Homo sapiens: one gene and its partners. The protein of the gene in region 1 interacts with the protein of each later gene in a pairwise test. Each region holds a gene or a part of one and is shown in the gene's direction. Other genes may lie near its edges.

Evidence for each region. Proteins that work in one complex are often made in the same cells at the same time.
Region 2: the proteins of THSD7B (region 1) and SLC30A8 interact in binary tests that used the Homo sapiens proteins (3 or more experiments, as listed by UniProt).
Region 3: the proteins of THSD7B (region 1) and SLC14A1 interact in binary tests that used the Homo sapiens proteins (3 or more experiments, as listed by UniProt).

What each region holds. Positions count from the first base shown.
Region 1 is NC_000002.12:136,760,206-136,768,694, forward strand, and holds the start of THSD7B (thrombospondin type-1 domain-containing protein 7B precursor), read left to right. Parts: upstream 1-5,339; 5' UTR 5,340-5,482; intron 5,483-8,489.
Region 2 is NC_000008.11:117,165,931-117,173,429, forward strand, and holds part of SLC30A8 (proton-coupled zinc antiporter SLC30A8), read left to right. Parts: intron 1-5,103; coding exon 5,104-5,238; intron 5,239-6,605; coding exon 6,606-6,751; 3' UTR 6,752-7,499. UniProt on the Homo sapiens protein: Proton-coupled zinc ion antiporter mediating the entry of zinc into the lumen of pancreatic beta cell secretory granules, thereby regulating insulin secretion.
Region 3 is NC_000018.10:45,720,317-45,727,615, forward strand, and holds the start of SLC14A1 (urea transporter 1), read left to right. Parts: upstream 1-3,864; 5' UTR 3,865-3,957; intron 3,958-4,633; 5' UTR 4,634-4,697; intron 4,698-6,636; exon of another isoform or gene 6,637-6,955; coding exon of another isoform or gene 6,956-7,102; exon of another isoform or gene 7,103-7,299. UniProt on the Homo sapiens protein: Mediates the transport of urea driven by a concentration gradient across the cell membrane of erythrocytes.

The sequences.
Region 1 (8,489 bases):
TAGGTCCTGTAGTTGAAATGACTAAGACATGAAAAAAAATGATGCTCTTTTATCTGTTCCACCCCTTATACCTCACTCATGAACACTCTAGCTTTCAATCTGTTGACAATAGTCATTTTCCAATATTATCTATTCTTCCTATCCTATAAAGGGACCTACTGTCCATCAGTCAGGCTGGTGTCCTTAGAAGACAGAGAAATAGAAGACATGGGCCCTCTTGCCCATCTCATCAAAGTTAGGCTTATGAGTATCGTGTGGCTTTGTGCCCAGCAGAAGAGGATTAAGGTTGCCAAATCTTTGGATAATAACAGGCTCCAATCTACATAACACCTGGTCTTTACAAACCAAGTCATTATGAATGTGATCCAAGTTGTCACTCCAGGGGTTTTATTATTTCCACATTAGTCGGTGTTGTGTCTTAGATATATGGAGGTTGCCGGCTTGTTTAGTGTGGATTGAATGACTGCTTCTCCTTTCTTTGCTCTGGTTTGGTAACGTTAGATAGCAGTGGGGAAGAAGGGATCATTGTACTATAGATCTCTTGGTCAGTCAATATTATTGGAGATGAGCAGCAAAACAATGAACCCAGATAATGCTGGGCATTAGAGTGGGTGGTACAGACTTCTAGGACAGGGATCAGAAGCAAGGGTCCCAGAACTGACTGGATGGGGCTGATCACTGTCCAGCCTCTCCACAATGCTGCTATATGACAAGAAGACAGAGCCAAGATCCTTCCAAATATTCATCAAACCATCTGGTTCTCTCTCCATTAAGCCACTTCCATCTCTTCCCTGGACACTGGCATCCCTGTTACACTCTTGCCATTTTCTTGGTTGCGGCACAGCATCAAGTGATCTTTTTAAAGTCTAAATTAGATGATATTGTTCAAAGAGATAAAACCACCCATTGGTCACAAGCACCTGCCCCTCTGCCCCTGCCTGCCTTTCCTATCCCACTGCACTGCAGTTTTTCCAGGCTTACTCATCTCCGGCTACCTTGGCCCCCGATGGGTTCTTCATGTGCCAACCTCTTCCAGCCATAGGCTCTTTGGCCATGTATCCTTCTTCTTCCCCTTTCTTGGCTGATGCCTGCTTATATGAGATGCAGTGTATCTTGGTGATTAAAAATGCACACACTAGTGCCAGACTGCCTGGCCAAATCCTAGCTTTTCTACTTATCAGCTGTGTGACTTTGAATAAGTTGCGTAAACTCTGTATGCCTCCACTGTAAAATGGAGTTGAAAATAGTGTCCACATCTTGGGGTAGTTATGAGGATTAAATTATATATATATATATATAACATTTAGCCTGTTGCCTAATATCTAGAAAAATCTTCATAAATGTTACCTCTCATTCATGATTGGGTCTCAGCCTAAATGTCATTTCCTCTGAGAGCTCTTGCCTGGTTCTGACCTTCCTTTCTACCCCTGCTCCATTGCATTCCTTTTTTATTGCAGGACTCTTTTCCTTTTCTTTCATATTATATATTTAGGATCATTTGCATACCTGTTTATTGTCACTGCATTAGACTATAAATGCCATGAGGGCAGGGACTCTGTATCACTGAATAACCAATACCTAGTGCAGTGCCAGGCACATAGTAGACACTAATCAAATATGTTGCTGAGTGAATGACTGAAGCTGATGGTTCAGGACTTCGTTTGTGAGTGTTGAGCGTCTGCTGGGAAAGCATTGGTGCCTCAGAGGGACTGAACTGGGCCAGAAGCCAGTGGAGTTCCACTACACTACTTTTCAATACATTATCTTTACATTGTATTTTAAGATGTTGACACATCAAAATCAAATTACTGGACCAAGCTCAAAAGTTACATTTATATGCCAGGATTAAATGTTCTTTTTTGGCAGAAAAAATGTTCAGATTTGCCACAGAATCTCTTCCAACCTGGAACTGGCCTGAATGAATTGTGTAAATGAGACAATCATGGTTCTTTTTCTCTTCCCCCTTTCCTCCTATTTTGTCCCCCAGAGTGACTGAATATTTGACTCAATTCGCTGCTTCAGTGGATGGGCCATTGTAGACCTGGGCAGCAACTCCCTGGGTGGCAAGTCCAAGATACTGGCTTATGTTTGCATTTATCACTTGTGTTTTAGATTGGGCTTCTTTATCTATGTGCCTTCTTTAGCTCTTCCTTGTTTAATGCCACTGATTGTTTATTTCATTTCCATAGCACTTTCCCATCCAAGCTTGTTAGACTATATGGAGAACATCATGTTCAGAAAAAGCAGTGGCAAACACACACGACAACAACAAAAATGTAAATTTACACTCTGCCTGTACTTGGCTAGCATAGGGTTACTTTTCTCCGTGATTCCTTAATGGGAAGACTCATTAGGTCTTCCCAATGGAGACCTAATCTCAACAGACTTTCTCCTTCTATCCCCTCTCTTCTGCCATTGTATTTTTGTTTTGTTCATTCTCATTGGAAGTCTGGTGGTGATTGGGGCCTTTGGCATCTGTGTGTGCAGGATTATGGGAATTTCTAATCTCAAGCTTATTTTCCAACCCTGGCACATTCAACTATTTCTTACACATAATGATGCCACCTTTGTTTTTTTTTAATCAAGCCTACCTTCTTCCAAATCCTTTCTTTGTTCACTTATTTTTAAAAATTTCTGTTCCTGCTCTTACGGTCTTCATTACTAATATTCCTTTCCCTGCCTAGGTTATCCTTTTAATGTTTCTAACCTAATCTAGATTTTGAGAGCAGTGTTTTTATTAAGAACCAAAGCTAACTATGTTGGCAAGAAACTCATATTATGAGTAAAATATACATTTAAAATATAAATTGGGAATTTGAGCTAGAAATGGAAAGAGAAAGTTAGAATGAGTCTTGTGCTTGCATTCTCCGTCTACAAAATTTGTATGTAATCACACAGATAAAGTTCAGACATCTTATACTCTTTGACTATACTGAAATATATGTTGTCAGCAGTGCCTTAATGAAAAGTGATTGTTCTCTAAAGGAATCAAATGTAACAAGTTTAACATTCATGGTTCTTTATTTTTCAAAAATAATTTAGATTTCATTCTCCTTTTTTATTTTAAGAAGCCCAACAGAATTACCATATGACTATAATCTCATATCCTAGATTCAAAAACCAGGAGACCAAACACAAACAATGCCTCAGAGGAGAAAAGTTGTGTCTTAAGAATCAAAGTATTCTTGGGTATCGTAAGTGATTGCTGACGTAGAGCAAAGGGTTAATGAGAATGGGCTGGCATATTAAATCAGAATGCACGTTGAAAGCAAATTGCCAGCCTAAAGGAAAATATACGTATCATTGTCTCTGGTGAGGGAGGGGGACAAATAACTACTAAGATGTCCATACATGCCATACTCAGAAGTCATCCTTGATATCTTTTTTTCCAGACAGATTGCAAACACAAGTCTTTCTCCCATATGGGGGTGTGTGTGCAGGGGGTGTGGCCTGAAAATGCAGCATTGATTCTGGGAAAACTGAAACCTGGGAAGCCTGGGTATAATAGTTCAAGAAAACAGAAATGTTTTTCTTTGGCTGTTGTTCCTGAAGTTACTTAAATGAGACTCATTGGCTATTGATCTGTATATATTGAGATTACAATAAAACATAATGGACCAGTTTCTCTCTCCCCTGGGTCACAGGATTGGCCTTTTATCTCTTGAGAGTAATAAATCATGGTCTTGGATTTAAGAAAATATTCTGGGATCTGGTTGGCAGCTGATTTATTTTTAAGACAGTGATGTCAGGAAAAAAAAAAAGCATAACCCAGAATGTGACTGTAGTGGGAGAATAGCGATTGCTGTTTAAAATATTAAGTAAGGCTTCCCTGCTTTCAGAACCCATCATCCCACAGCAAGCTGAGTTGAAGCCCCTTACCAATATATTCACATCTTTCTTTACAATGGCACTTACATTCTTTTGATTTCTTTTTATCTGTGACAGATCCTAGCTTCTCTATTTATCTCTTGAATCTAATTTGCTCTATGACATCAAGCTTTAATTTTATCATTATTATTTTGCTTCATTTTAAGCACCCATGGTGTGCCAGGCATTGGATAAAATAGAAAAGATACAATCCCTGCTGTCGCTGGGCTCACACATTTAAAGAGATTTGACAGGCAAAATATCCTGTAATTGGCAATAGGTAGTCCTCATGCTTCCCCCCGCCCCTTCTCCCTTTTGAAGCAACTTCATCTCTCTGAACAAGCTTAAGAAGTTCCCTAGATCAAAGGTGTCAAAAACCAGAAGGGTTTGGAACAAGTGTCAGAGAGTAAGCAAACGACTTTCTGAGCTGTGACTCTGCTCCTCGACTGCCCACGTGCTCTCCGCTGTCTGCACTCCTGCCTCACCTGGGCTGACTCGGACTCTCCACCTCCTTTGCTGCTTCCGGCATGAGCTACCCAGGAGCCTAAGGCGCTCCTTCCCGCAACTCCGGTCCCCGCGCCCCGGGACTGCAAATCCTTTAAACAGAGGCCCCAGAGCTAGGGGTTTTCCCAGGCTCTGGTGGGCGTGGGCTGACAGTCGCTGGGAGCCCCGCAACAGGGGGGATGTCCAGGCAGGTATGCACCCAGCTCCCGGCGTTTCCCGGAGTCACCACAATGTTTCCCTTTCTCTCTCCCCCACGTATGCTGCTAGGGGTACTCCCCAGATAGGATTTTCTTTGTCTTTTCTCCTAGTAACACCGAAGCCCTCTCGTGCCCGGGGACTGCAGAGGAACGCCAGACCATCCGGACCTTGCGGGATGGCTCGGTGTGTGTGTTTTACTGTGTGTCGGAGTGTCGCGCATGTGTGCGTGTTGGGGCGCGTTATCAACAGGGGCCTAGGGCACCCCCACTCTTTCTTGCTCTCTTCCCCCATCACTTCATGGACCTCCGAGGCGCAAAGCGCTCGACCCTCTCCTGGGCTCAGTGGCTTGGGTACTCCGGGCTGAGCTCAGCTGGGGAGTCCCCTTACCCAGCCCGCACCGGCACCCCGAAGCTTCAAAGTTGCGGCAAACAGTTGCGGGGAGCAGAGGAACTGAGGTCCAGGCCAGCGCGCCCGCGGTCGCTCGCCTTGGGGAGCAGGCTGAGCCGAGGGTCGTGCGGGTGCGCGGCAGAGGCGGTAGGAGGCGGAGGAGAGGGGGGAGAAAGAGGGGGCGGTGGGGAACAGCTGCCGGGGTAGGCGAGGCGCAAGGTGGCTCCCCGCGGCCCCGCGCCCCGCGGCTCTCGGACGCACCAGGCAGCCAATGGCTGCGCAGAGGTGTACAGCAGATGGCGTCTGACTGCGCCGTTCCTTCCTCCTCCTCCTCCTCCTCCTTCTCTTCCTCCTCCTCCTTCTCTTCCTCCTCCTCCTCCTTCAGTGCTGAGGAGCCAGAGTCGCCGCCGGGTTGCCAGACGCTGGAATGGGTGGTCTTCCGACACACACCACCATCTTTCTTGCGCTCGGGAAGCTCGGGGCTCAGCGGCTCCCAGAGGTTACGGCGGCGGCTCTGGCGAGACGGGTGAGTGCAAGCACGCGGAGCCCCGAGTCGGGGATGCCGGGCCCCCTGGCCGGCCGACTGGGGCGCGGGGTGGCAGCGCCGGGGAAGGGGGCGCGCTGCCGGCGCAGACTTTGCTCTTTCCTCGCCGGACAGCCATCGTCGCCCCTTCTCCCAGCCAGACGCGGGAACTTGGAAGCGGATCTTCTCGGACGCCTCTGGCTTGGGGCTGCGGGAAGCGTGGGCTGCCCGGGGCGCAGTGTGCGGAGACCCTCTAGGCGGGCGGGGACGCCCCACGCGGCGACCTGAGCACCGACCTCATGCAACGGGACCGAACCTTGGGACCCGGGCAGCAGGAGCTCTGTTCCCTTCACCTCCAGCTTGGTTTGAGGGATACTGATGAAGGAAACCGGGGGTTTCCCGTCCTGCGCGGAGAGCCTCGGCGCCCAAAATCGAAAGGCCGGGAGTTGTTCTGCAGGCTTTGCAAACAGGTTGACTGAGGGTTTCCTTTCCCGTAGCGCTGACTGCGAAATCTGTGCATAGGCGTTCAGTGCCAGTGGAGGATAGCTGAGCAAGCCAAGAAGTTTTGCAGCTTCCTCTGATTTATCGGTGGAGTGTCAGGAGGCTGTAGCAACAGTTTACATTTCCCCTGTCCCTGCGAGTGGCTAGGGGCAAGCTGGGCTCGGACGTGATATCCTGCTGTTTGTGGAGAGGAAACTGGGAACGGGGCTTGAGAGTGAGGGGCAGGGAGGGGGGGACAGGCATATTTTCTACTGCATCGCCCATCTGCACCTGTCCCCTTTGCTGTCTTACATGTCCCATAGTATTAAAGTTATTTGAATAAGCAAATGAACCCCGCTCTTTGGTGACCGCGTATTTTGAAGTTGGAAAACTTTGCAGGGGACGAGGGAATGTTGAGGAGGGGGCGTTAAGCTCTCTCACTCTATCCCTTTTTAAAGACAAGAAAAAAACTTTCGTTGGCGAAGGTGGTACTTTTTTCTTTTGGAATGTCTGAGCTCAGAGCTTCCCATAAGAGGTATTGCGATTCAATACTGTACAGTCAAGGTGAAGTTCCACTAAGATTATGGGACCGTGGCATATTCTACGGAAGATACCAGGGTTCCTTGGCGCTCTGTTCATTGCCAGGGTGGTCTGCTGAAAGCCGGCAGTTTCCCACCCTCAGACTCCTTGGAGCTCTTTAAATGACGGTCTGCCTGGTGTTTCTCAGCGGTACACCTGTGAGTGCTCTGTTATCATGGAAATGGTAACCCATGCAGGTAGGGCTCATGCCAACCAGACTGTGGTGGGGTGTGTGTGTGTTTGTGTGTGTGTGTATACATGCGCGTGCGTGTGAACGTGTGTGTTTGGAGTTTCCTTTTGACAGGTAATCTTTGGATGTCAAAGGGATACAGTTATTTGTCTGGCAGTGTCAGGGCAATCTGAGTTTCTCGAGTAACTAGGAGGAGGTAATCTCCAGGGAAGCCTTTTTGTGCTCTTGACTGTCTACTCAGCAGTTGGTGAAGGCTTCCTGAAAGCCACTTAGGGTGTTACTAACCAAATCAAGAAGTCTTACTCAGTGGTGAGTGAAAGCTCGTGTCTTTGTGGGTTAAAAGCTGTTTATAAAGTTTCTGTCTTGAGGCTTCACTTTGACAGACTGCTGTTTTTAAACCTTAGTGCCATTAATAATAGGAGTCTTCTTTTGAAAAGTAATGTGGCCAGTTCTCTGTTTTCTGAGGGTAGTTGATCTAATCTGGTAGATTCCCTGGAATTGTTTTATTTTCTATCCCTGGGAAGTGTGTGTGTGTGTGTGTGTGTGTTGTGTGTATTTGTGTGTGTGTGTTTTCTTCATCTACCTGCTGAGAGTTGAGGGTTAGAAACTCTTTTTCATGCAAATTTAAGTGAAAAAAATTATGAAGAAAATTCTTCTGACACTGTAACAATATACACAGATACTTCTGAAAAAATTGTAGGTGTCATTGTTGACTTTAAAAACATCGGATAGTCTCGTATAAATCAGCACAGACAGATCCAGCAGCCCTGAACACCTACAAACCATTCAGGGTTTTGGATATTCTAGATTAATCTGTGATAAGGGCTTGGAGATACGTGGTCCAGGAAAGGGCTGTCTACTGTTGGTGGACTTTGATAGTCTGTTTTGAGGGTTCATAATACGATGAGCTCACTTTATGTCAACCTTAATATTTAAATCAATACTTGAGAAATGATCTTACAATATTTCTTAATCTTCTGGCCCATTGTTTTCCATCAAAGTTGTTGATTGTTAGAGAGTTGAAAGGCTAAGAAAGAGGAACACTGTTAGACAGGTAGAAAATAATTACCGATCATATAAACAATGTAAATACAGACTCTACTGTTTGAAGACTGACATTAACAAATTGGTAACGAGAGGTACCTTTCTGTTCTCTGCTGAGTGTGCCTTTTGAGAGAAAGTAGGGAAGGAATGAAAGGAAAATGGTACTAAATTGTACTTCATCAGAAGGGCTATGAAGGACCTTGTCTGCTTGCTACAGATCCTATTTCTGAAGGAATAACTCTTTTGTTAATATCAGCAAAAAGAATGTTGTCCTTAAATGATAGACCGAAAAAGCAGAATAAAAAGATAGGCTCTAAGTTAAAGGAGGGAGAATGTCCAAACAAGAACAATTCTAAAGCATGTCAACTCACTTTAATTATACTTCACAAATTGAAACTGGAGTTGTATGATTCCTTTAAAGAAAAAAAGTCTTGCCAAAACTTCAATTCTGCTGTTCTGCACACTTTACAAAGATTAGGCATTAAAGTAATAACATTATGTCAAAAGTTTGAATAGAATGATGAAGAATATTTGACTGGTCTTATTTAGTTAACTGTGAAAATGACAAATGATACAATATATTAAATACATGATTAAGACAAACAGATTAAAGAATTCTAAGTAGTGACAACTATATTAGTTGATGGGAAAAAAAGAATAGCACTATTAAGGCTTCAGAGATGCTCTACAGACAAAGCATAAAGGCTGGGTCTTTGA
Region 2 (7,499 bases), on another chromosome or scaffold:
TTGTTCTCATAGAAGTGAAAAGTAGAACAGATAGCAGAGGGAGGGAAGGGGAAGAGTAGGATAGGGAGAGAGTTGTTAAAGGATGCAAAATTACAATGAGATAGCAGGAATAAGCTCTAGTGTTCTATAGCACTACAGAATGACAAGAATATAGTTAACAATAATATATAGTTCCAAATAGCTAGAAGGAAGATATTGAACATTCCCAATACAACGAAATAATAAATGTATGAGATGATGAATTTGTCAGTTACCCTCATCTGATCACTATGAATTATCTGTATGGCAACAGCACTGCATGTCCCATACATATGTACAATTATCATGTCAATTTAAAACTGTTTAAAATTTAAAAATAAGGTTTATTGGAGACCTGAGGTACTTGATTATATTTACAAGGTGATTTATCATTGCTACATTGGCCATTTGTCGTTAACAAATGATATTATTTTCTATCTTACATTCCAGGAAAACAGGTATTATGAAGGACTTGCCTAAAACCCTTATTAGACTAACCCAGCAGTTCTCAAACTTTAGTGGCATCAGAATCACGTGGAGGGTTTATTGAAACACAGATATCTGAGCCCACTCCCACAATTCTTGAGTCAGTATATCTTATTGGGGAGTAGGAGGAGCAAGAATTTGAATTTCTAACAAGATGCTGGTGCTGCTGGTCCCAGGACAACACTTCAGGAACCACTGGACTAATCTTTTAGTACCACTGAAGGGATTCCCACATGCTGGCCCTGGGAATGGCACCTGTAAAATTCAGTGAGAGCTAGAAGTTTGCATCATATCAAACATCCAGATGATTGAAATATCCAGACATTAGCTGATTTTTTTTTTTTTTTTTTTTGTCCAGCACATTTTGACATAAGGTAGATCTGGTCTCAGAGTGCAGTTGCCTTCAGTGACAGCTCACACTTCGTTAGTGTTCACTGCTAAGTATACATTTAAAGGTTTGTTCTTGGTGGTCACTATAATTGTTGAAAGATAATAGTGTTGACAACAGTGAAATGGATAACGGAGTCAAATGTCACAGAGTAATAGTGAATTTTCTGTCTCTAAACATGAGAATATTTGGTTTGTCAAGCCACAGAAGCATCCATTTTCTTTCCTGAGTGCCGAATGCTGAGCTGCAGCTGTTGTTGCTATTATGGAAGTTATTGACTTAAAGAAAGATAAAAGACAAGTTGGTGTACAATTTGAAATGACTTATATTCCGCTTTTCTTTGTGTGTCTCGCTATAGCTCTTCCCTGGTGATTATCTTTCTTATTTTACTTCAGGAAAAGTGCAGAGACTGGACTACGTCAGCTAGTTATAGAAACTGGCAGATAACTCCTTTCTGGAAGACACTTAATTTTTAAATTAGGTTTTCAAACTATGTTAGTATAGTACTTAGTAAAATTTAAAAATAATACAGAAAAGTATGAAATAATTTTAAAAAGTCTCCTTATAATTCCGTCTTTGACTTCTCAGTCCTATTCTTCAGGGATAATACCTGTTAATAAGTTGACATTTATCTTTCCAAAGATATTTGTGCATTTGCATATATATATATACATACATACATGTATATGTATATGTGTATGTGATGTAAGTGTGTACCTTTTTTTATAAAAATGGGATTACATATTGATTCACATTTTTTCTCTGCACCTGGCATTTTTCATTTGGAGATCTTTTATATTAGCACATACATAGATATACCCCATTCTTCTTCACAGCTGTAATTACTCCACAGCATGGAAGTACTTGCTTGTGATTGACATTATAAACAATGATGTAATTACTATAAACAATGATGTAATTACCACCCTTGTACATATATATTTTTAGCACTTGTATATCTGTGGAATAATTCCTAGAAGTGATATTGCTGTTTCAAAACTTACATGCTTTATTAGTATGTTTTTTCACTGCTCATAAAGACATACCTGAGACTGGGTAATTATAAAGAACAAGAGGTTTAATGGACTCACCGTTTCACATGGCTGAGGAGGCCTCACAATCATGGCAGAAGGCAAAGGAGGAGCAAAGTCACTCCTTACATAGCAGCAGGCAAGAGAGCTTTTTCAGGAGAACTCCCATTTGTAAAACCATCAGATCTGTGAGACTTATTCACTACCAGGAGAACGGTATGGGGGAACTGCCCCCATGATTCAATTATCTTCACCTGGCCCCCACCCTTGACACGTGGGGATCATTACAATTAAAAGTGAGATTTGGGTGAGATTTGGGTGGGGACACAGCCAAACTATATCACATGCATTTCAAAATTTGATAGATATTACCATTTCTACCAAAGATACAGTATCAATTTCTTTCCCCTCAACAGCATATGAAAGTGCCCCTTTCCTCACATCATCACAACCACTGAGTATTATCAAACTAACTGTTCATTCTTTTCTACTCTAATAGGTGAAATATTATATCTTATTGATTTCAAATGCAATTATTTAATTATGAATGATCAGTGGTTTTTCAAATACATTTATAAGTCTGGGAAGTTATTTATTAAACACTAATTTAGATATTTTCCTGGATGCATTAATATTTTTTCAGACTCCCCCCCAAGTAAAAGAAAGTTCTAGGATGTGATGGAGCATTGAGTCCAGTGGGGCCATGCCTCTTGCCTGGCAACACTATTTGTTATAATAAAATAAGTCATGGTGGACCTATGTTCTCTATAATAGTAATGAGATGAAGGAGACAAGTGAAAAAAGGGTAGTGGGATCATGACTTAATTTCAAAGGGCCTAGATGAATGATAGCAAGTCTTCAAATGGTCAACAGAACTTCCCCAAAGAGATGACACACATTAGGCATAACAGACAGTGTTTTGATTGCAATTCCTAGACTCTAGTATTTGCGTAACACTTTATACTCAGAGCACAGACATTGGGATCTGATATCCCTGGTTCTGCCACTTCTCTGTGTGGCCTTAGCAATGTTCCTTAATCTAACTGACCTCAATTTCCTCTTCTCTAGTTAAATAAGAATTGTAACCTTAATAACTAGCTTCTAAAGTTTTTAGGACTATTAAATGAGATAATTGCTATATATAAAGTACTTTGCACAAACTTTACACATAGTGGGCCCTCAATAAAAGTTTGTTATTATTATTATGACAATTTTACCCATGACTTTATTCACATTGTATGGCTAATTTGAGACAAGAACTCCTTTCATCTGCTTCTAGGAGCCTAGGTCTTTTGCCACTCATAGAGTAAAATAGCATGATAACCAGCTCTTTGTTACTTCCCCAAACAATATGAGGTAGGATCAAAAACTCAGCTCATGCTGTAGGGAATTTTGAGTTAACTCCAAGGAGGAAATCCCCCATGAGCAAGGTTCTTAGCCCATTTTTTGCCGAGTGTTCCATTATTGGAATGCTAAGCATGTGAGAGTTATTTATATCCTGCTCAAGGTCATTGCCAAGGTCTGATTGCAAAAATTCAAAAAATTGCAACCCCAGGCATAAATGGGTTAAATTTTTCAAAAGGAGGGTTAAGGGTTCCCCATTTCTTTAAGTAGATGTTTCTCAGTTCTAGCTGTTCATTATAATCCTCTGGGAAGCTTTTAAACAATGCTTATGCTCAGGCCTCCCATACCCAGTGTTATTAGGCTGTTCTCACATTGCTATAAAGAAATACCTGAGACTGGATAATTTATAAAGAAAATAAGGTTAATTGGCTCATGGTTCTGCAGGCTGTACAGGAAGCATGGTGGCATTTGCTTCTGGGGAGGCCTCAAGAAGCTTCCAATAGCGGCAAAAGGCAAAGGGGGAGAAGGCACGTCACATGATGGGAATGGAGCAAGGGCAAGGGAGGTGCTACACACTTTTAAATGACCAAATCTTGCAAGAACTCACTCATCATCGCAAAGACAGCACCAAGCCATGAGGGATCTGGCACCATGACCCAAACACCTCCCACCAGGCCCCATTTCCAGCATTAGGGATTACAATTCAACATGAGACACTGGCAAGGATAAATATGCAAACTATATCACCCAGAGATTCTGATTTAATTGTCTGGGGTTGGGGCTGGCTTTGGTATTTTTAAAAACATGTAGTCAGACTAGAGAACCACTGCAAAGCAGAGCTGCTCAGTGGCTCATGAATGTTGGTGCAGTGGTTCTCAATCTTGGCTGCCTGATAGAATCACCAAATGAGCATTGATGTTGGGCCTTATCCACAGAGATTCTGATTTAATTGGTCTTGGGTGTAACTTAGTCATCAGGATTTCTAAAATCTCCTCTGGTAATACTAATGTGCATCCAAGGTTGAAAACCACTCTGAAAGACTCTAGATTTTGGAGCTTCATCCATAGAAATTTCCTTTTAGGTCTGGAATGGAGTCGTGGTACATTTATTTTTAATAAACACCCCAGGTGTTTGTGTTGTTTGTACATAACTGAAGTAGAGGCTAAAAAAGGGCTGTACTTAGACATCTCTTCTACAGCATCCTCCAATGTAGCTAAAATAATAGAAAACTTACAAACCGAATAAGATGGTATTATACAATGTTAGGATCCTCTATTAGCACAGTTCACTAAATGACCTGTTGAGTAACTAATCTTTGTACAACATTGCTGTTCATAATGATTAGATATTTTCTGAATTGCTCCTCAAAGATCTCTGTGATCTATGTGTTGTTCTTAACACCCTTATTTTACTACAAATGTGCTGAGGGTCAGAGAAGTTCTGGGATTTGGGTAAATTCACAATAGTTGTCGTCAGGATGCTAACCCATGATTATTTGATACCAAATTTCATGTTATTTCATTTTACTTTCCAGAGTGTATATAAAGATAGTTGGAAAAGGCACAGTTAGTTTAATAGTATACCATAAAAACTAAGGATAATTACCATTGTTGGTTATTGCATAGTAAATTCTGCAAGTATTCTGAGTGGGAAATTTTGATTGATGGTAAACCTTGAAGTAGTCAGGTAAATCTTATTTGTAAACATTTGAAGTAAGAAACCAGCAAAGGGATGAACACATTGAAATTTTGGTGAGGACTTTGCAGCTTGTTTAGGTAATTCAATGAGCTGTATCTAGTTGAATAACTACAGCCTCCATCTCTTCCCTTTTGTCAGGTGTGCCAAAGAGCCTGAATTACAGTGGTGTGAAAGAGCTTATTTTAGCAGTCGACGGGGTGCTGTCTGTGCACAGCCTGCACATCTGGTCTCTAACAATGAATCAAGTAATTCTCTCAGCTCATGTTGCTACAGGTCAGTGAGTTTTGTAAACACCCTGGAAAAAATTCAGTCCTTGTCCTGTAAAGTCAGTAATTTCCCTTCTTTTTGTAGAGCTGCCCTTATTGTCTGTTGCTTGTCAAAACATTATAAAGTGTTTTCTATTACCAAGGGCCTTTGAAACCAGCCCACTTATTGATGTTGTCATAGCAACAATGATACCCACGACATTCTTGGGGCTGACTGCAGAGGGCTGAGGACAGACAGAACAAAGGACTAAAATGCACCCGCCACTTCAAGGCCTTGGACTCTGAATATTCAACTTCATCTGTTTGGCTTGGTGCCCTATCAGTCAAATAATAGGAATGAATTAAAAACTTAATCTTAATTGAGTATCTCCTATGTATAAGATGTTTTTCCTGGCACTGAAAATAGGAAGATGAAAGAGACACCAGCCCCACTCTTAAATTTCTAACAAGCTAATGGATGTGCTAATAGGAATTATGGTGGGGTCCCACACTGTATGATTAGAAATTCTGTAGCCATGTGAGAAAATTCTTATAATACTAGGTTTATACTAAAATTACTTTTTCAAGAAGTTAATTTTGTCTCTGATATGTCCTAGAGCTGGGAGGATAGGCAGTGGGAGGGCATTTACTGCCTCAAGAGAAAGCTCAGGCCAAGGATAACACATTAGGCTGCTAAAAAATGACTCAAGGAGTTACTTAGGGGCAGGGGACAGGAACACTAGTGACAGTCATTTGAAAACTGTGCTTTCTCAGACATCGTCATCTTCTCGAAGGGGCTTAGGTCTGACTTGAGGGAATTTACAGCATTCACTATGCCAATATTTCACTGCAAATGGAAGAATCTAGTAAACACTCAGGTTGCTATGGAGGAGACTTTACAGCCTGCTGATAGCATTTGGGACAGGAAAAAAATGGCAGTGAGGGTTGCTGCTCTAAGAAAGGTCTGTGGGGAGCTCTAAACGCTTCCTGGTTCCTGTCACTATCCTTGATATAAATTCTGATTACATACAAAGCCTGCAACCCAGAGATCCCTGGGAGCTGGTGAGCAGGGCTGTATAAGAAATAATAGTTCTGTCTTGGCTTTTTCCAGGGCTTGTCTCCCCTTCCATAGTAAGCTCCTAGGAATGCCAGACTCCAGAGATAACAGTGGACAGAAAGAGTTCCCATAGCGACAGGGCACTTTGCTGCACTAGAGTTTCCCCTGCCTTGTCTGTGTGAATGTAGCTGATTATCAGAGCAAACGTGGCTTCCTCTGAGTGCCCTGCCTCTGCCCCACCCCAGCAGGTCAAAGACAAAGTACTTGAAGTTGGAGTCAGAGCAGTCGCCCATGCGTGTGCAATCAGTGCTAATCTCCCTGTGCTTCTTTATCAACAGCAGCCAGCCGGGACAGCCAAGTGGTTCGGAGAGAAATTGCTAAAGCCCTTAGCAAAAGCTTTACGATGCACTCACTCACCATTCAGATGGAATCTCCAGTTGACCAGGACCCCGACTGCCTTTTCTGTGAAGACCCCTGTGACTAGCTCAGTCACACCGTCAGTTTCCCAAATTTGACAGGCCACCTTCAAACATGCTGCTATGCAGTTTCTGCATCATAGAAAATAAGGAACCAAAGGAAGAAATTCATGTCATGGTGCAATGCACATTTTATCTATTTATTTAGTTCCATTCACCATGAAGGAAGAGGCACTGAGATCCATCAATCAATTGGATTATATACTGATCAGTAGCTGTGTTCAATTGCAGGAATGTGTATATAGATTATTCCTGAGTGGAGCCGAAGTAACAGCTGTTTGTAACTATCGGCAATACCAAATTCATCTCCCTTCCAATAATGCATCTTGAGAACACATAGGTAAATTTGAACTCAGGAAAGTCTTACTAGAAATCAGTGGAAGGGACAAATAGTCACAAAATTTTACCAAAACATTAGAAACAAAAAATAAGGAGAGCCAAGTCAGGAATAAAAGTGACTCTGTATGCTAACGCCACATTAGAACTTGGTTCTCTCACCAAGCTGTAATGTGATTTTTTTTTCTACTCTGAATTGGAAATATGTATGAATATACAGAGAAGTGCTTACAACTAATTTTTATTTACTTGTCACATTTTGGCAATAAATCCCTCTTATTTCTAAATTCTAACTTGTTTATTTCAAAACTTTATATAATCACTGTTCAAAAGGAAATATTTTCACCTACCAGAGTGCTTAAACACTGGCACCAGCCAAAGAATGTGGTTGTAGAGACCCAGAAGTCTTCAAGAACAGCC
Region 3 (7,299 bases), on another chromosome or scaffold:
GAACTTTGTTGCAATAAACACACAAATTTCTAGGACATTAATAGTGACCCCCTTAGACGTGGTGCATTTGTGCAGTGCACAACCTGCACACCCTTACGCATTGGCCCATGACACCAGAGACTACATTATGAGCCTTACACTGGTCTGATTTTAATTTAAAAGCTGGAAAGGTGACAGATGGGCATCTGATGAAAGTTGTAGGTAGGGATGGAGATTACATGAACCCTCTGCTTTGTGCAGGAGGAACATCATCTCTGGATGCTCCCAGCTATTGATCCCCGTTTACTCCTAAAATGGATGGAATAATTTCAGGACTGCATTTAAGGGGAGCTAAAAACTTAGGGACCTCAGTGCCTCCTTTCATCACCCGTCATTGTGTTCCCCCAGCAAGGGCAGGCAGTGGAGGTTTGAGTGAGACTTTTGCACTCTCTGCGCTGCCTTGATCCTTGGCTTCACTCTAGGGAATGCCTACATCAAAGGGTCCCCTCCAAGTGTCGTTCTGGGAGTTTTGGCTCTCGTCTGGTACCTTTTTATCTGACTGTTTACCAAACCAAAGAACTCAGTAGGCTCAGAACTCACTGCAAAGGAACATTCTGTTCCAGACTTGCAGTCCTTGCCACTCTCTTCGTGGGGGGGTGAGGGGACAGAAAAGCATGAGAATGTCTTGTAGAAGTCCTCAGTGAGGGCACTGCCCAATTACATAATCTTGAGGTGCCAATTATTTATAACATTAAACTGCCTATGCGTAGATCAATATCAAGCAGCAATCAAATGAAACAGTGTTATAATTTCTGATTAAAACAACACAAATTTAGAAATACCAACAAATGCAAGGTATTGTAGAAAAAATATGAAAATTGTGTTTTATCCATAGTTGCATTCTCCTTTCTCCATTTTGTCACCTAGTTCTTATGTCCTCTTACGTATATTTGATGAACTGCCTCAAAATCTTTCTGGAAAGAGAGGTCCATTAGGAATGGAGAGAGCTATTGGATCCTGACTTCATCATCCGGTACCTTCCGGCCCAGATGGGACTGTGCATCGTAAGATATATTCTAAAAAATAAGACAGTACCAGAACTGTTGCAGAGCTAGGCGGCATGATTTCATGGCCAGTGAGGAATAGAGATGTAAACTGCTTTAAGTGCACAGAAGCCCACTGCGAAATCCAAATAGATTTGGGCAGAGTATGAGGAGGGGGAGGAGAGAGAAAACATTCTAGGGGCAGAAACTCCAAGAAGAAAGTCGAAGAGGAGAGCAGCTTTATGTAGGTTCATTTGTGATTGTTCCAGGCAGAGAGATGGAAGGTGCATTCACTTGGTATGGGAACAGAGAGGGGCACCCAAAGAGGAGATGCAAGGGAAAGACCAAGGAAAGGCAATGTTAGGGCATACTCAGCAAATGACTCTCTGGAAATAATAAAGGAGCTACTGTAGAAAGAACAGAGAAAAGTTCATTGTATTGTGCAATTAGGCTGTTAAAAGCACCGAGAACACATGTATGCACGCAATGAGTGCCCAGTTGTCTACAGCAACAGGGTGGCAGCGGACCCTGGCATCTCAGAATCCTGCAGTATGAGAATTTGGCAAGCCCTGCATCAGAAAGCTACCTAGTTCACAGTTCTTGAATGAAGCAAATGGTTTCCTCTGTACTCATAACTGCACCCCTTCTGATGTCAAAGCAGGGAGAAGTTTGTCCCCTTATTCAAGCCAGGAGGAAGGTTCCATTTGGAAACCCCCAAGGTAAACCAGTGCTGATTGAGAGGGGCTGACATCAGAATGGGGGCACCTCTACATGTTCGGCACGGTGCTTTGAAGATGTCATCCCTCATCACAACTTTATAAAGGAAGAAAAGTTACCCCACTTTACACTGAGGAATCTGAGGCTCAGAAACTGTGAGTAACATGCCTAAGGTCATACAGCTTGTCAGAGAAAAGCTAGTATTCAAACTCAGGTTTATCTGACTTGGAATTCCATGTGCCTTGTGCTGCCTTGTGCATACAATATGGCAAGGCTGTAATTTGTGGCCCCCCACTTAAGGTGTGGCTTTACAGGGACCAGGAGAAAGGCCAGGGAGGGAGGGTGGGTACAGAAAGAGGTGGTTTTTCCAAGGAGGTCTGAGATTCACTACACACCTTCAGCCCTGACCAGTGCGACTGAGGCAGAAGGCTCCATGGGTGTCATGTGGAGGCAGCTTCAGGATGAGGTCCATAAATATGCATCATGGCCAAGTTGAGTGAAGGAATTAATGAAAAGCAAACATACAGGCAGAAGTTGGAAATATTGGACAGCACTGGAGTGGCTAAAAGTACAAACTTTGAGTCAGACTTTGAGCAAGTTATTTAAACTCTGAGCCTCAGATTGCTCATCTACAAAATGGGGACAATAGTATAATATAGGAATTTTGCAAATGCTCTACCATTTGTGGCAGTTATTATTCTCATTACCATCATTAGCATGATTATTTCTATCAGGGACAGTGGTCCATTTGCATAAGGAAGTCATGGAGACACTAGTATGATTCCTTTCATTCCCAAAGCAGGCCACTCACACTGTCTCCTGAAGATTCATTTTTCTCCTTCAGGGAAACCCGAGGAGCTTATTTTCTCCTTATTTTACCAGGGAAAAAATGTTGGAAGGAGATTTGCCTGAACCTGGAAACTCTTATTATGAACCTAGACCTATACACACCCTACCTCAGCTGCTCGGGAGGCACTTGGAGGAAGGATGTCCCAAGCCGGCAAGAACCCTGTGGTCTGGCGGGTGTCCAGCGGGTGGAGCCAGAGAGCTCCCAGCCATGGGCCACCTAGCTGAAGGCTGATAAGTACTATCTGCACATCCAAGCAGGCAGGAGACCCAGATAAAAGACCTATGACATCTGCATGGCTGGCTGTGGGATTACATATATATATTATATATATATTTAAAAGTATATGTATATATGTATATATATTACATATATACACACATATATATCTACACATATGTAATATATGTATATATGTATATTTATTATATGTATATATCTACATATATACATGTATGTATGTAATATAGATGTATATATGTTACATATATACACACATATACATATATACACATATATTTTTTTAAAATTCTGCACTCATAAAAGTAGATTTGAGTTAGATTTTTGCCATAACAGAACAAGCCACAAAATTGAAATTTAAAAAGAAGGGGGAAGGAGGAGATATTTTAATTCAGTTTTAGATTTCCCTGCTATAGAATGTTTGCTTCCTGACTTTTAAAGAGGCAGCAGAGTATGTCCAAGAATTCTCACCTGGGAAGACAGACATTCCAGGGAAACACTGATATTTTTGTTTTCTCCTCACTGGGAAAAAGGCAGCTGGCCTTCAGAAAACAACTTGCATGTACCTTATCTTCCCCACCCTCCCAACAGCCCCTCAGGCCCTTGCTGGAGTCTTACATCTGTGTAGAAGTTGTGCCAAGTCTAAGAAAATTTCACCCCAGGAGCAGTCGCTTAGCTTCCGAGTCCACACAGCAGCAACCTGCCCCATGGTTTTTAGTTTGACACCGTGTTGATCCTTTTCAGTTGTAAATCTTTCCAAAAATATGAGTAGGGGCCAGAGGAAACAGGAGAAGAAAAAGATGCATTTTGGTAGGATTATTGCTGGTCAAAGACCTTGGAATGCTGTGGAAACTGTGGCAAAGCAGTTGGTACTCTGTCAAGAACAGAGAGAGAGACATCGGGTACTGAAGCCAGGGGACCAGTTCCTTGGTGTTGCTTTGGCATTGATGCCTGAAGTGGGAGGAGAAAGCCGAGCCCACAAACACACAGAGCAGAGTGGGGCTCTGAGTATATAACTGTTAGGTGCCTCCCTCCAGCACCATCTCCTGAGAAGCACTCTCCCTTGTCGTGGAGGTGGGCAAATCTTTATCAGCCACTGCCTTCTGCTGCCAGGAAGCCAGCTAGAGTGGTGTAAGTACTCATCCTTATTTCTATTCATTTCCAACTATTCATCATTTGGGGCTTGTCTTCACAGTTCTAAGTTTTGCTCTTTTTCTTAATGAAGAAAATGTTTTATATCACCGGAATTGATCAGAAGTAGCAAAATCAGAGTTCTGGTAGACTAGAAAGCAATTTACCAAAGCCACAGGCTTCTTCCTGGAAGCTCAAAGGCATGCCTTTATTCGTGATTTCTGAAGCAAGGTGCATGCAGCACCTGAGCTGATGTGGAAGAGGGTTTGCAGGGAGGTGTCCACCCAATGTGCTCAATGATTCTGGGTTAATCAACACTATTAGGAGTTTCAGGTTGTGTTCTTGAAATAATAATTTGGGCTGTGTTCTTGAAATAAGTTCGAGGCGAGTGTCTACAAGACTCAAAAGAAAAAAGTGGGCCACTGGGAATGGCCCTTTCCAGTGATGGATTTATGGACTCCTCTGTGTGTGCTGTCATGCTGAAGGGAATGTTCTTGTGCACCCATCGGGAGAACAAGTCAGTCACAACTGAAGCCACGAATTTGGCAGCTTCCTTGCAGCTGCACTCTCTGGAGTCTGGAATCAAGACTTCTGGGAGTAGTGTTTTCCAAGGAGGGAAGTGTTTTAACCAGGACACAGGAATATCTGACAGCATTTTCTTTGTTTCCAATTACAGCTTTAAAGAAAACTGGGCATCTCCTGCTACTTAAAATCAAAAACTACCTAAAATAAAGATTATAGTAAGTACCAAATAAGTGTCAATGCTGAAAGTCTCTTTATTATGCTAGACCATGAGTGTTTAAATGCTTTCTTCTATATCCATATCCAACACTTCATATTATTTTTAAAAGTAATAGCTGAAGCATGGAAAATTGAAGACTTCAGGTCTCTCCAATTGCACAAATTTCTAATACATGCTGGCAATAGAATATATTTTATTTCGTGTAATAAAATAGAGGATATTAGTTGACCTGAAATCTTGATATTGCCTTGTATTAAAATGCTAAGCACTGCTTCATTTTACTAGTGATCTGGGGTATGAAAAGTGCTTTTTGACTTCTGCTGGAAAGCTCTTCAGGTGCAGCTTCCAGGATATTCTTGGGATGTTAACTTCAGCACACATAAGCCTTGCTGTAGATGTGTCAGCTTTGAGGCACAGGGAGACATTTGTTTGTCAGAGAGTAACTGCTTCTGGCAAGGGCATAGGGTGAAACTGGGGATAGCAGAGCTCTTTCTTTGTGGTTGTTCAACCCCCACCCCAAGATTAGTTCAAAGTGACCGTGAAGATAGTCTGTGCCCACCGCATCGCTAAGTCCTAGCCCTCTCTGCATACTCCAGCACACAGAAACTGCTGCTTCACTTGTTTGTTGACTTGAACCGAACCTTGGGTGGCATTAATGTGCCTGGCCCAAGACTGAAAAATTAAGAACCACCAGAGCTGACCTATTCCATAAGACCCAGTCTGCCTGCCACGTACTGAGTGAATCTGGATGATGCCCACTCTGATCCTTGGTTTTCTCTTCTATAAAATGAAGGCTTGAACTACGTGGTCTCTAAAATCCTACCTAGCTCTCAAATTTCTCTTGGTTCTAGGAAAATATTGATGTTGAGCTCAAGGAAGGGGTTCTCCAAGGTGTGTGATTTTGGTGGTAGAGGAAAGGCCGGTGCCAGGCAGGGGCAGAAGGAGACGCTGTCTACACTGAGAAAATGTGACAACCCCTGCTTGTCTCTTTTTTCATTCTTCATTGTTTCTTATTTCTTTGTTTTTAGCTTTATATAACATGAGAGCCCTACCACTGGGTTTCTTAACCATTTGTTCTTTATCAAATAAAAATATTCATAATGCAACATGCAGGCACATCAGTGTGGTACAGAACTAGCCAGCTAGTTTACTATAGGTAAATATACACACATGCATGCACACACACAATTTTTACCTGAGACATGTCAGAAGTGTTTCCTAAAATTGTGGATTTTTCTGAGTCATTCTGGTAAAGGGTAGGTTTTCAGGTTTTAGGCCAAGCCAGAAGAAGAAAGTAAAAACAGAATAAACAACAGGGGGAGAAAAAGAGAAATACCACACACACAACTGGAACTTCTGGTAAAAGAGTGATATTCTTGGATGCAATGGAAGTTTTAAAAAGGAAAAAGAAAATTTATAAAAAGCTGCCACATTTGTGGAATTCAACTAAAAACTGTTTATTATTAACAAAGTGATGTTCAAAATTTAAGAGTTCTTGGCCTGGCATGATGACTTATGCCTGTAATCCCAGTGTTTTGGGAGGCTAAGGTGGGAGGATCACTTGAGGCCAGGAATTCAAAACCAGCCTGGACAATACAATGAGACTTTGTCTCTAAAAAAAAATAAAATAAATTAAAATAAACACAGCTGGATGTGGTGGCACAGGAAAAAAAAATACCATTTAGGAGTCTCTTAAAGGCAGCTTGTGAATGCTTACAAAGCGTGGCTAGTATCTTATTACAGAAAACAGAGCCCACATCATGCATCCTTCTTCTCACATTTCATAAACAAGGCCAAGGGAAACTGCTGTGGGGCAACCTGTTGCTTTGGTGTTGGTCCCCAAGATGCAGCCCTCACAATCTGCCCCCAAACGTGTCAGAACATGAACCCCCTCCTCCCCCTCTGGAAGAAGCAACCTCAGATCCAACAGCAGAGACACGCAGCAGAACAAAATCTGGGCATTGGTCCCTGTGTAGGATGGCTTCCCGTTATTTTTTTTTTAAGCAAAGTAAATGAACATCAAATTTCCATAGTCAGCTGCTGTCTTTCTGCCCACTGAGAGCTCTTTGGTGAAGGCAAAGTCCTCCTTCTTCATTAGCGGTCTCCCATGTGGGGCCACATCTTCCCTCACCAGGAACCCAGTGGGCGCGCTCCAGCCCCCCTCAGCTTGCCTTTTGCGTGGTCATTAGAGCTAGGGCACACGTCATGCTGATTCACATATTTTTGCCCTTTGTCATGTATTGAGAAAAAGTAAGGATGAATGGACGGTCTTTGATTGGCGGCGCTGGTGACGCCCGTCATGGTCCTGTTTGGAAGGACCCTTTTGGAACTAAAGCTGGTGACGCAGCGCGCAGAGGCATCGCCCGGCTAAGCTTGGCCCTGGCAGATGGGTCGCAGGAACAGGTATGCTTCCTTCGTGCAGCCTCTGGCTCGGGGAACCTGGGAGCCTGCTCCAAACTCTGGTGTATCTTTTCCGGGCAGAGCCTGGGAAGTGGGGGTTGGCTGTGAGCTAAGCCAAAGGCACAGGGATCTTGGTCCAAAAAGCCCCATGGCGCTCACCTTGGTTTAGAGGCTAGACCATTGAGCTGAGAAGTTTTGAC